3 separate regions of the Homo sapiens genome follow, and all the other regions are linked to region 1. Evidence: fine-mapped QTL for protein levels in blood plasma. A gene starts in region 1. Each other region holds a variant in brackets. All regions are shown on one strand. Distances are between the middles of the regions.

Region 1 (4,242 bases):
GAAAAAACAAAAATAAAATAGATTACCATCACCCCACAAGAATATAGACTTCTATATTAAAACTCTATTAAATCATATGCCTGTTATATTAAAATATACGGATTAATGCTCACAATATTTCAGTAGCCATTCTTTGTCTCCTTAAAATTACAAAAATCAAAGTTATTTTAACACTAATGATGAATAACCTCAAAACCAAATCTATTGTATTTAGTGTGCTCTCACAGTTACAGTCCTCTGAGCCATACTGAAGCGCAGTAATTAAAATCCACAGGGATGGTACTAGCAGCAACAGTGCACAGCACAGTACTTGTTAGAGTTATCTGCGCCCCACCCAGCTTCTACACACTAGTGCACTATAGAAAGGTAAATATACTATCAGAAGACCCAGAGTTTAGGCCACAGTATGCTTAGGCCACAGCACAGCAAAATCTACCTCCAGGTACATCTTACCATTTCTTCGTACACTCAACCATGAGCTCCTGGTAGGAGGCCACAAACTGGAACTTGGATGCATGTTTTCCCACACGCTGCAGTCTCTTCCAAACTGAAGCCATGATGATCAGTCAAGACACTGGAGCAGTTCTGGGTTAGCAATACAGCAGCTTTAATAATGCAGAGGGTCCAAAGCAAAGGAACTTTGCATGTATGTCTTTTAAAAACTCAACTACAACTCGAAATGATGCTTGGGGTCCATAAGTCTTCTCCCTGTTTCACAGGGTAAATCCCATCTTAGATGAATGGCCCAGTCAAGAACACTATGATATACGTGACAGGATGAGTGGGAAGGGGTTCCCTCATGGAGACATCACCATGCCACCTCAGGGGCTATATGATGGGTATTCTGGAGGGCTGAAAAGCAAAACAAAGACAAAAAGAGAAAGAATATGAGGAGAGAATCATGAGAAATGACTAACCACCCATGTTAAATAACGCTGCAAAAGACCATCCCAGTTCTCTGCATGTCTTTTAAACAATGAAACAAAACACTGACCTCAAAAGCCAGTAACATCAAGGATGCAAGACACCAAGGAAGAAATTACAATTCACACCGAAGACGTGGAGCGACACATCAGGTAGTCAGCACCAACAACAATCCAGAGAGACGGTAACTCGGGGCCCTACCTCCCCCTGTTAGCATCACTGAAGGGCGAGCAGAGCGGGAAAGTCTAGGGATGCTGTTTAATGTCCACCGCCAGAAAGAGGGAGAAGTGGAGTATTTTTTAATAAACTTTGTTTTTCAGTCGATAATTAATAGCCTCAAGTCCGACAATATGTGCTTGGAACAAATTAGGGAGCCAGGAGGAATGCTATTTTTCAGTCGGAGGGAGGAAATGGATGGGGAACGAGGAGTGGAGGGAAATCTCCAGGCAGAGAGAGGGCAATGTCCCGGCTCCAGGCCACTTGGGCTCCTTCGCTGCCAACCGGAGGGAAATGGAAACTCCTGCCTGGGGGTGAAGCAATGACCAGCGGGGCAAGTGGACTGTGCAGGGTGCGGTGCCTCCCTCCCCCATCCTCAGGGAAACAGTCCGCCGGAGCCCAGTCTCCTCACGCACGGAGCCCAGACCCCTGCCCCCCAGCGGAGACAGGCGGTGGCTCGTCCGCGGTCCCTGTCACCCAGGCGATACCAGAAGACCCCAGCCCGGACCCCGAGCCCCGGCCCCGCCGCTCGTCCACTCCCGCCCCCTCCTCACACCTCTAATCCCGCTGTCGGGCTGAGTCTGGCCCCGTTCCCTTCTCATAGCCGCTCCTCCGTCGCCGCCGCAGCAGCAGCCGCCGCCGCCACCGAGTCCTCCATCCCCGCCGGAGCCACATGGAACAGCCAAGCCAGCCACGGCGCTCGCGGTAGCCGGGATCTGCAGCCCCTCAGGCGGACGGCGCCCCTCACGCCCACCCCCTCCCTGACAGATCGCCCCGCGACCGTCCCCCACCCTACCAAGCCCTGCCAGAGCCACCGCTCAGCGCCCAGCACCCCCTCCCCCGCCTTTCTCCTCCGCCACCATCATCATTACCTCCCCCGCCGCACCTCTCACACTAACCCTACCCACGGCAGCTCAACCTCCACCGCCCCGCCGCCATTGGCCAGGCCCCGCGCGTGCCCCGCCCACCTCGGCGGCCGGGTCTTACAGCGGCTGGGGCACCTCATTGGTAGAACTGCCTGCCCATCACAGGGGCTCCGCCTTGCCCTTGCTCGGGAGGTGGTTTTTCCCCGAAGCCGGAATGCGACGCACAGGCTACCTTTTTTTTAAAAAAAAAAAGAAGGAACCGACTAAGGACGATCCCGCCCGTTCTTCTGATTGGCTTGGAGAGGGAAGCGATAGGCGGGAGGAATAGGGAGTGTTTATAGTGAACTGCAAGGTGATTGCAGAAGGTGGCTGTCCGTCAAAGGCGCCGCTGGTGCGGGGCTGGGTTTCTGGCCCCTAAGGGTGATTGCAGACCTAGAGATTGGCTTCGCTGCAGCTGTGGGCAGTGCAGCTGCCTGTGGGTTTCTCTCCTGTTCTCATCTCCGCCAGGACCTGGGCGCGCCCTCTCCTCCGCCACTGGCAACTAGGGTTTTTGCGCATAGCCTTTATTTCACCAGTTCCTCCTGGGATCTTACCTGACAACCTGAAGTAATGACCCTGTCAGGCACCCCCCGACACCCCGGCCGCTCCCCGCCCAACATAGAGTCAACTGGTCTTCAGTGGGATTGAATCAGCTGAGCTAGACACAAAATGTGTACAGTACAATTTCTTATTGTTCGGAGTCTTCAACATTTCTTTGAATCTTGGTTTCCTCTTCGCTGTCGGACTCTTTTGCCCCTAGTGAGAACTGTAGATGGATTTGGGAACAGCTAGCATATAAAAAGGGTGGTCAAAGGCAAAAAGGAGGAGGCAGAGTGAGGGCAGGGACACTCAATCTTGTTAAAAGAGCCAAGGGCCCTTTTGAGAATATGAAAGCTACAGATACTTTCTCAAGGGGGAAAAAGTGTTCTGTCTCAAAACACAAAAAATTGTTTTCAGTTTTAGGTGGTTCACAGACCCCTGGTGTGGAGAAAGAGGACAAAGAATGAAACTTCAGGGGAATCCTAGCATCTAAGGAATAAACAGAGTAAAATGGGAAAGAGACCGAGAAGGAATAATCAGAGAAGTAGGCGCATCAGCAAGCTATGGGCAGACAGTTTGGAAAAAAAAGAGAGGCAAGCTAACATAAAAAGAAAGCAAGCGGGATGGGTTCTGGAAACAAGGATCATTCAATCTTACGAAGGTTGGAAAGCAGGGTGCATGGACAAAGTAGCTTGAAAGGTGTTAGGGTCTAGGGAGGATTCTTTCAGGGACAGGAAGAGAGAGCAGTGATGGGTGAGAATTGAGTCCATCTGTAGACATTGGGGGCCAAGACAAAGTGGAGAGACATGTTGAAGAATCAAGAGAGATGGGGAGACAGATATAAGGCTTGAATCCAGTATCTAATTCAATTTCCACTTTCAATAAAGAAAATGATCTAATAATACAAGAGCACAGTGTGCATTTTACAGAAAACAGCATAGTTATCGCTTATTTTGCTAGTCAATTCTAAAATGTTAAGATAATCGTAATAATCATATTGATTCTTATTTTCTATTAAGAGTTCTCTGATGTCCTTCCTGAGTGGTTTACGAAGTCACTACAACCTACAGCCATTATGATCTCATATAATAATATATTCTGCATCTTTAGTAGGCTTTAAGTGTGTGGAGTTTTTTAATGGCTTATTTGTAGAAATGGTCATAAATTATTTTCATCCAAGTTACCCTTCAGAAACAATCCACATGATGATCAGAAGGTTTTTGCACCCTATTTATTACTGTTCTCTGGAAGTTCTCAAACTTTCTTATGTGGTCATTCTGGTTTCTTTTAACATGCTTCCCTTACTCCAAAGGGAGAGGGGGAAGAGAGAAAAAATAGAGAGACTGACTTTATTGTAAAGAAATTCCCTTAAAAGTAATAAGTTTTAAATGGTGTCTTAAAAAAAAATAAAGGAGTAGGATCCCTAGGGAATCTTCCTCAAGTTGTGGAAAATTTCAAGAGACTGATAGTTTCTTATGACAGCTCTTCTTTTTAGGGGAAATATTTGTCTTGGATGTAAACTCTTATTTTTCCTTCTAGACACCAAGGTAGCTAAGAAGAGATCAAAGTTAGAATCGTTTACTAAATGAGTGAAGGAATTAAGAACAGCTCTTGACCCTGTTCTGCCACTGACCTCATGTTCATAGGCTGTCTCCTG
Region 2 (4,242 bases), 71 kb after region 1:
GATTTTTGGTTTATTTGTGTAGAGGTATTCATAGCATTCTCTGATGGTAGTTTGTATTTCTGTGGGATCAGTGGTGATATCCCCTTTCTCATTTTTTATTGTATCTATTTGATTCTTCTCTCTTTTCTTCTTTATTTGTCTGGCTAGTGGTCCATCTATTTTGTTGATCTCTTCAAAAAACCAGCTCCTGGATTCATTGATTTTTTGAAGGGTTGTTCATGTCTCTATCTCCTTCAGTTCTGCTCTGATCTTTGTTATTTCTTGTCTTCTGCTATCTTTCGAATTTGTTTGCTCTTGGTTCTCTAGTTCTTTTAATTGTGATGTTAGGGTGTTGATTTTAGATCTTTCCCGCTTTCTCTGGTGGGCATTTAGTGCTACAAATTTCTCTCTAAACACTGCTTTGGCTGTGTCCCAGAGATTCTGGTACATTGTGTCTTTGTTCCTATTGGTTCAAATAACTTATTTATTTATGCCTTAATTTTGTTATTTACCCGGTAGTCATTCAAGAGCAGGTTGTTCAGTTTCCATGTAGTTGTGCAGTTTTGAGTGACCTTCTTAATCCTGAATTCTAATTTGATTGCAGTGTGGTCCGAGAGACTGTTTGTTATGATTTCCATTCTTTTGCATTTGCTGAGGAGTGTATTACTTCCAGTTGTGTGGTCAATTTTAGAGTAAGTGTTATGTGGTGCTGATAAGAATGTATATTCTGTTGATTTGGGATGGAGAGTTCTATAGATGTCGATTAGGTCTGCTTGGTCCAGAGCTGAGTTCAAGTCCTGAATATCCTTGTTAATTTTCTGTCTCATTGATCTAATATTGACAGTGAGGTGTTAAAGTCTCCCATCATTATTGTGCGAGAGTCTAAGACTCTTTGTAGGTCTCTAAGAACTTGCTTTATGAATCTGGATGCCACCGTATTGGATGAATATATATTTAGGATAGTTAGCTCTTCTTGTTGCATTGATCCCTTTACCATTATGTAATGCCCTTCTTTGTCTCTTTTGATCTTTGTTGGTTTAAAGTCTGTTCTATCAGAGATTAGGATTGCAATCCCTGCTTTTTTTTTTCTTTCGATTTGCTTGGTAAATATTCCTCCGTCCCTTTATTTTGAGCCTATGTGTGTCTTTGCATGTGAGATGGGTCTACTGAATACAGCATGGTAATGGGTCTTGACTCTTTATCCAATTTGCCAGTCTGTGTCTTTTAATTGCAGCATTTAGCCCATTTACATTTAAGGTTAATATTTTTATGTGTGAATTTGACTCTGTCGTTACGATGCTAGCTGGTTATTTTGCCCACTAGTTGATGCAGTTACTTCATAGTGTTGATGATCTTTACAATTTGGCATGTTTTTACAGTGGCTGGGACCGGTTTCTCTTTTCCATATTTAGTGCTTCCTTCAGGAGCTCTTGTAAGGCAGGCCTGGTGGTGACAAAATCTCTTAGCATTTGCTTGTCTGTAAAGGATTTCATTTCTCCTTCGCTTACGAAGCTTAGTTTGGCTGGATATGAAATTCTGGGTTGAAAATTTTTTTAAGAATGTGGAATATTGGCCCCCACTCCCTTCTGGCTTGTAGGGTTTCTGCTGAGAGATCTGCTGTTAGTCTGATGTGCTTCCCTTTGTGAGTAACCTGACCTTTCTCTCTGGCTGCCCTAAACCTTTTCTTCCTTTATTTCAACCTTCATGAATCTGACAATTATGTGTCTCAGGGTTGCTCTTCTTGAGGAGTATCTTTGTGGTGTTCTCTGTATTTCCTGAATTTGAATGTTGGTCTGCCTTGCTTCGTTGGGGAAGTTCTCCTGGATAATATCCTGAAGAGCATTTTCCAACTTGACTCTATTCTCCCCGTCACTTTCAAGTATACTAATCAGACGTAGGTTTGGTCTTTTCACATAGTCCCATATTTCTTGGAGGCTTTGTTT[GTTTC/C]TTTTCATTCTTTTTTCTCTACTCTTGGTTTCACACTTTATTTCATTAAGTTGATCTTCAAACTCCAATATCCTTTCTTCCACTTGATCGATTTGGCTACTGGTACTTGTGTATGCTTCACAAAGTTCTCATGCTGTGTTTTTCAGCTCCATCAGGTCATTTATGTTCTTCTCTAAACTGGTTATTCAGTTAGCAATTCCTCTAACCTTTTTTCAGGTTCGTAGTTTCCTTGCATTGGGTTAGAACATGCTTCTTCAGCTTGGAGGAATTTATTACCCACCTTCTGAAGCCTACTTCTGTCAATTAGTCAAACTCATTATCCGTCCAGTTTTGTCCCTTTGCTGGTGAGGAGTTGTGATCCTTTGGAGGAGAATAGGTATTCTGGTTTTTGGAATTTTCAGACTTTTTGCACTGGTTTCTCCCCATCTTCGTAGATTTATCTACCTTTGGTCTTTGATGTTGGTGACCTTTGGATGGGGTTTCTGAGTGAACGTTCTTTTTGTTGATGTTGATGCTATTCCTTTCTGTTTGTTAGTTTTCCTTCTAACAGGCCCCTCCTCTGCAGGTCTGCTGGAGCTTGCTGGAGGGCTACTCTAGACCCTGTTTTCCTGGGTATCACTAGCGGAGGCTGCAGAACAGCAAAGATTGCTTCCTGTTCTTCCTCTGGAAGGTTTGTCCCAGAGGGACACCCACCAGATGCTAGCCAGAGCTCTCCTGTATGAGGTGTCTCTCAACCCCTCTGGGAGGTGCCCCCCAGTGAGGAGGCACAGGGTTCAGGGACCCACTTGAGGTGGCAGTCTGTCCTTTAGCAGAGCTCAAGTGCTGTGCTGGGAGATCCTCCACTCTCTTCAGAGCTGGCAGGCAGGAATGTTTAATTCTGCTGAAGCTGCGCCCACAGCCACCCCTTCCCCAATGTGCTCTGTCCCAGGGAGTTTAATCTATAAGCCCCTGACTGGGGCTGCTGCCTTTCTTTCGGAGATGCCCTGCCCAGCGAGTAGGAATCTAGAGAGGCAGTCTGGCTACAGTGGCTTTGCCAAGAGGCAGTGGGCTCTGCCCAGCTGGGATTTCCCTGCAGCTTTGTTTCCACTGTGAGAAGAAAACTGCCTATTCAAGCCTCAGTAATGGCAGACACCCCTCCCTACATCAAGCGCGAGTGTCCCTGGTCAACTTCAGACTGCAGTGCTGACAGCGAGAATTTCAAGCCAGTGGATCTTAGCTTGCTGGGCTCCATGGGGTGGGGATCCACTAAGCTAGACCACTTGGCTCCCTGGCTTCAGCCCCCTTCCAGGGGAGTGAACGGTTCTATCTTGCTGGCATCCCAGGTGCCACTGGGGTATGAAAAAAAACTCCTGCAGCTAGCTCAGTGTCTGCCCAAATGGCTGCCCAGTTTTGTGCTTGAAACCCAGGGCCCTGGTGGAGTAGGCACCCAAGGGAATCTCCTGGTCTGTGGGTGGCAAAGACCATGGGAAAAGTGTAGTATCTGGCTGGAGTGCACCGTTCCTTATGGCACAGTCCCTCATGACTTCCCTTGCCTAGGGGAGGGAGTTCCCTAACCCCTTGTGCTTCCTGGGTGAGATGACGCCCCACCCTGCTTTGGCTCACCCTCCATTGGCTGCACCCACTGTCTAACCAGTCCCAGTGAGATGAGCCGGGTACCTCCGTTGGAAATGCAGATATCACCTGCCTTCTGCGTTAATCTCACTTGGAGCTGCAGACCGGAGCTGTTCCTATTCGGCCATCCCGCCAGCCACCCCATGTTGAACTTCTAACTCAGAGAACTATAAAAGTACAAATGCTTGTTGTCTAAGCCAATAAATTTGTGGTGCTTTATTAGGGCAAAAATAGAAAACTAGTATAGATTGGGGGAGCTGAAATTGGATGCTGCTGTAACAAATAACTAAATATGTGGAAGTGACTTTGGAATTGGTTGGTGGAAGCTGGAAGAATACTGAAGATCATGATTTTTAAAAAGTCTATAATGCATTGAACAGACTGTTAGTAGAAAGATTGACTTTAAGAAATTGTGTCCTGCAGTTATGTGGCAATCAGAACTTAGAAACAATGAAAGTGGACATTTAGCTGAGGTGATTTCCAAGTAAAGTATTTTGAAGTACAACTTGGTTTCTTCTTACTGTGCTTATAGTGAAATGAAGAGGAAAGAAATAAATTGAGGAAAGAATAATTAAACAAATAGAATCCAGGATTTGATGATTTGGGAAATTCTCAGATGATCCAGATTATAAAAGACATGAAAATTAAGAGATTCACTGTCAGGGAAGTGTATGCTAGAGAAAAAGCTAAGGGTGTGGCTAGAGT
Region 3 (4,242 bases), 61 kb after region 1:
CTAATTAAATTAAAGAGCTTCTGCACAGCAAAAGAAACCACCATGAGAGTGAATAGGCAACCTACAGAATGGGAGAAAATTTTTGCAACCTACTCATCTGACAAAGGGCTAATATCCAGAATCTACAATCAACTCAAACAAATTTACAAGAAAAAAACAAACAATCCCATGAAAAAGTGGGCGAAGGACACGAACAGACACTTCTCAAAAGAAGACATTTATGCAGCCAAAAAACACATGAAAAAATGCTCACCATCACTGGCCATCAGAGAAATGCAAATCAAAACCACAATGAGCTACCATCTCACACCAGTTAGAATGGCGATCATTAAAAAGTCAGGAAACAACAGGTGCTGGAGAGGATGTAGAGAAATAGGAACACTTTTACACCATTGGTGGGACTGTAAACTAGTTCAACCATTGTGGAAGTCAGTGTGGCCATTCCTCAGGGATCTAGAACTAGAAATACCATTTGACCCAGCCATCCCATTACTGGGTATATACCCAAAGGATTATAAATCATGCTGCTATAAAGACACATGCACACGTATGTTTATTGTGGCATTATTCACAATAGCAAAGACTTGGAACCAAGCCAAATGTCCAACAATGATAGACTGGATTAAGAAAATGTGGCACATATACACCATGGAATACTATGCAGCCATAAAAAATGATGAGTTTACGTCCTTTGTAGGGACATGGATGAAATTGGAAATCATCATTCTCAGTACACTATCATAAAAACAAAAAACCAAACACCGCATATTCTCACTCATAGGTGGGAACTGAACAATGAGAACACATGGACACAGGGAGGGGAACATCATACTCTGGGGACTGTTGTGGGATGGGGGAATGGGGGAGGGATAGCATTGGGAGATATACCTAATGCTAGATGACGAGTTAGTGGGTGCAGCGCACCAGCACGGCACATGTATACATATGTAGCTAACCTGCACATTGTGCACATGTACCCTAAAACTTAAAGTATAATAATAATAATTAAAAAAAAAGAAAAAAGAAAAAGAAACTCACTCAAAACCGCTCAACTACCTGGAAACTGAACAACCTGCTCCTGAATGACTACTGGGTACGTAACGAAATGAAGGCAGAAATAAAGGTGTTCTTTGAAACCAATGAGACCAAACACACAACATACCAGAATCTCTGGGACACATTCAAAGCAGTGTGTAGAGGGAAATTTATAGCACTGAATGCCCACAAGAGAAAGCAGGAAAGATCGAAAATTGACACCCTAACATCACAATTAAAAGAACTAGAGAAGCAAGAGCAAACACATTCAAAAGCTAGCAGAAGGCAAGAAATAACTAAGATCAGAGAATAACTGAAGGAAATAGAGACAGAGAAAACCCTCCAAAAAATTAATGAATCCAGGAGCTGGTTTTTTGAAAAGATCAACAAAATTGATAGACTGCTAGCAAGACTAATAAAGAAGAAAAGACAGAAGAATCAAATAGATGCAATAACAAATGATAAAGGGGATATCACCACCGATTCCCACAGATACAAACTACCATCAGAGAATACTATAAACACGTCTACGCAAATAAACTAGAAAATCTAGAAGAAATGCATAAATTCCTGGACACATACACCCTTCCGAGACTAAACCAGGAAGAAGTTGAATCTCTGAATAGACCAATAACAGGCTCTGAAATTGAGGCAATAATTAATAGCTTACCAACCAAAAGAAGTCCAGGACCAGATGGATTCACAGCCGAATTCTACCAGAGGTACAAGGAGGAGCTGGTACCATTCCTTCTGAAACTATTCCAATCAACAGAAAAAGAGGGAATCCTCCCTAACTCATTTTATGAGGCCAGCATCATCCTGATACCAAAGCCTGGCAGAGACACAACAAAAAAAAGAGAATTTTAGACCAATATCCTTGATGAACATTGATGCAAAAATCCTCAGTAAAATACTGGCAAACTGAATCCAGCAACACATCAAAAAGCTTATCCACCATGATCAAGTGGGCTTCATCCCTGGGATGCAAGGCTGGTTCAACATAGGAAAATCAATAAACATAATCCAGCATATAAACAGAGCAAAAGACAAAAACCACATGATTATCTCAATAGATGCAGAAAAGGCCTTTGACAAAATTCAACAACCCTTCATGCTAAAAACTCTCAATAAATTAGGTATTGATGGGAAGTATCTCAAAATAATAAGAGCTATCTATGACAAACCCACAACCAATATCATACTGAATTGACAAAAACTGGATGCATTCCCTTTGAAAACTGGCACAAGACAGGGATGCCCTGTCTCACCACTCCTATTCAACATAGTGTTGGAATTTCTGGCCAGGGCAATCAGGCAGGAGAAGGAAATAAAGGGCATTCAATTAGGAAAAGAGGAAGTCAAATTGTCCCTGTTTGCAGATGACATGATTGTATATCTAGAAAACCCCATCGTCTGAGCCCAAAATCTCCTTAAGCTGATAAGCAACTTCAGCAAAGTCTCAGGACTTATAATTTTTGTCTCTAGAATGATAGACCTATCTGT[G/T]TAGAACTTATAGAAGCAGGTGATACTTAATTAAAGGTCACAATGATATGTTTTTTAGGCCAATATCACACAGAATACATGTGAGTTAGGCCCTAAAGTTTGGAGTAGTATGCTGTGATGATTTATACCTTTCACGGATGGTTTTGGTACTGCATGTTCTTTTTTAAAACACAATCATGAGTCTGCCTCCTGCATGCAAGGAATTACCTAGAAACAGGGCAATGAATTAAAGATGGCACAGCTCTCTTTGTTTAATGTTTCCTATTTTTCAGGGGTTTGTTTTGCAACTTTAATATTATTAATCTACACAACCTTTTACTTTTCATTCAGAATTTATATCAGAATCAAGCTAATAAATTAAAGATGAGTTAGTTCATTGTTGGGTGGTTTAATGTAGACCTAGTATGTTAATCCCGATGTGTTTGTTACTAGGGTTTTAAATTATTATTATTATTATTATAATATTTGCCTTGTAGCTGTGGTTAGGCAGCAGCAATAAATCAGAATAAAGGAATGAAGGTATTGGGGCTTTAGGGGAAACATATATTAGAAAAAATTGGTTTGGGACTAAGGGCTTTATTGCATTAAGATGGATTTTAGAGATACAGAGGTAAGAGAATGTAGACAAATAAACTGTATAAATAATTTGAGAAATAGTAAGTCTGTACAGGTCCCAAGTAACCCTGTAAGCCACCATCAACAGGACTTCGTAACTCCTGTTCAGACAGACCAAACAGGTACACTCTACTTAAACAAATAGCCAGGAGAAATGGGCACATGGCTAACGCTAGGGAAAGTGGGAGAAACAGATAAAGCTCTTTAACATAGCCCAAAGGATTGGAATAAAAGAAGTCAGTGTAGGAGTCTGACAAGGCATCTTCTGTGAATAGGGCTTTATAGCCACTCTAGGCGCTGATATTGCAAACACAGGCTAAGGCAACCAAAAGCTGGGAGCCTTACAGTGCAACACACCAGTGCCCGAGAATATAGTTCTCTGCAGTAGGGAATTCGTTTTGGCAGCCTGAATGTGGAGGAGACAGGAAGAAGCATTCAAATAAGGCTGAGCATATAAATAAATGACATGGTGTGAAAGATGAAGTTGATGGGAACAAGTTTGGACCATTCCAGGGACACGAGGAAGTACAAGGATGGCAGAAAGTACAGAAAGAATAGAAAGAGCAAAAGGGACCTTTCTTAGTAGCCTGAATGGTACCTGAACTGAGAGAGTCATATGTTCTGGAACAGATTTTATTCTCAACTAAAGCATAGAAGTTCTGTAGATAGGAAGAAACAGTTTTTTTTTTTGAAGCCTTGAACTTGCTTTTGTTGGTTGGATATGTCTGCTTTGTCCCTAGTTCTTTCATCTAAGTTGATCCAGTTACACATCACTGTGCAGGGAACAGACCCTGTCCTCATTCTTATCTTTGATGTTCCCTAGGCTCACTTCCTATTTGTTCACTTGACTAGCTATTCTCTGGCCCTGCTTCCCATCCCCTGGACTCTGCTTGAGGCTTTGAGCCCCTGTACTCTACCTTACTGACCTTTCCCTTATCCTTTTTTATTTACTGTCCCTTAGCTTCCCGAACAAGGTGTATTTGACAGGACATGACTGCTAGACCACTGGTGGTTATCTCCAAGATAGTAGTAATCATGATAATGACCATGCTGTCCCATACAGCCTGGCTATACATTGTCATTTTAAAA

Alleles and levels. Alleles are on the strand shown, and positions count from the first base shown. The strength of an association depends on the size of the effect and on how common the allele is.
In carriers of allele C in region 2, the plasma level of the protein whose gene starts at base 2,036 in region 1 tends to be higher than with GTTTC alone (weak association).
In carriers of allele T in region 3, the plasma level of the protein whose gene starts at base 2,036 in region 1 tends to be higher than with G alone (weak association).

Evidence for each region. A credible set is the group of variants that fine-mapping cannot tell apart. PIP is the chance, under the fine-mapping model, that this variant and not a neighbour inherited with it causes the effect. The UK Biobank Pharma Proteomics Project read protein levels with antibody pairs (Olink). The fine-mapping took linkage between variants from a reference panel, not from the people measured, so its PIPs are less certain.
Region 2: its variant is the best candidate, but not a certain one, in a credible set for the plasma level of the EHBP1 protein (UK Biobank, PIP 0.78).
Region 3: its variant is the best candidate, but not a certain one, in a credible set for the plasma level of the EHBP1 protein (UK Biobank, PIP 0.61).

Annotation. Positions count from the first base shown.
Region 1 is chr2:62,703,507-62,707,748 of GRCh38, reverse strand. EHBP1 (EH domain binding protein 1) reads right to left here and starts at 2,036. Exons shown (of 23, transcript NM_001142616.3): 1 at 1,697-2,036; 2 at 454-852. The coding sequence starts at 557. RefSeq lists silencers at 1,700-1,779, 1,900-2,159 and an enhancer at 2,190-2,329.
Region 2 is chr2:62,632,422-62,636,663 of GRCh38, reverse strand. No RefSeq gene overlaps it. Among named protein-coding and RNA genes, the nearest start is that of EHBP1, 71 kb to the left of the region's middle. The variant GTTTC/C (reference allele first, on the strand shown) is at 1,923.
Region 3 is chr2:62,642,481-62,646,722 of GRCh38, reverse strand. No RefSeq gene overlaps it. Among named protein-coding and RNA genes, the nearest start is that of EHBP1, 61 kb to the left of the region's middle. The variant G/T (reference allele first, on the strand shown) is at 2,539.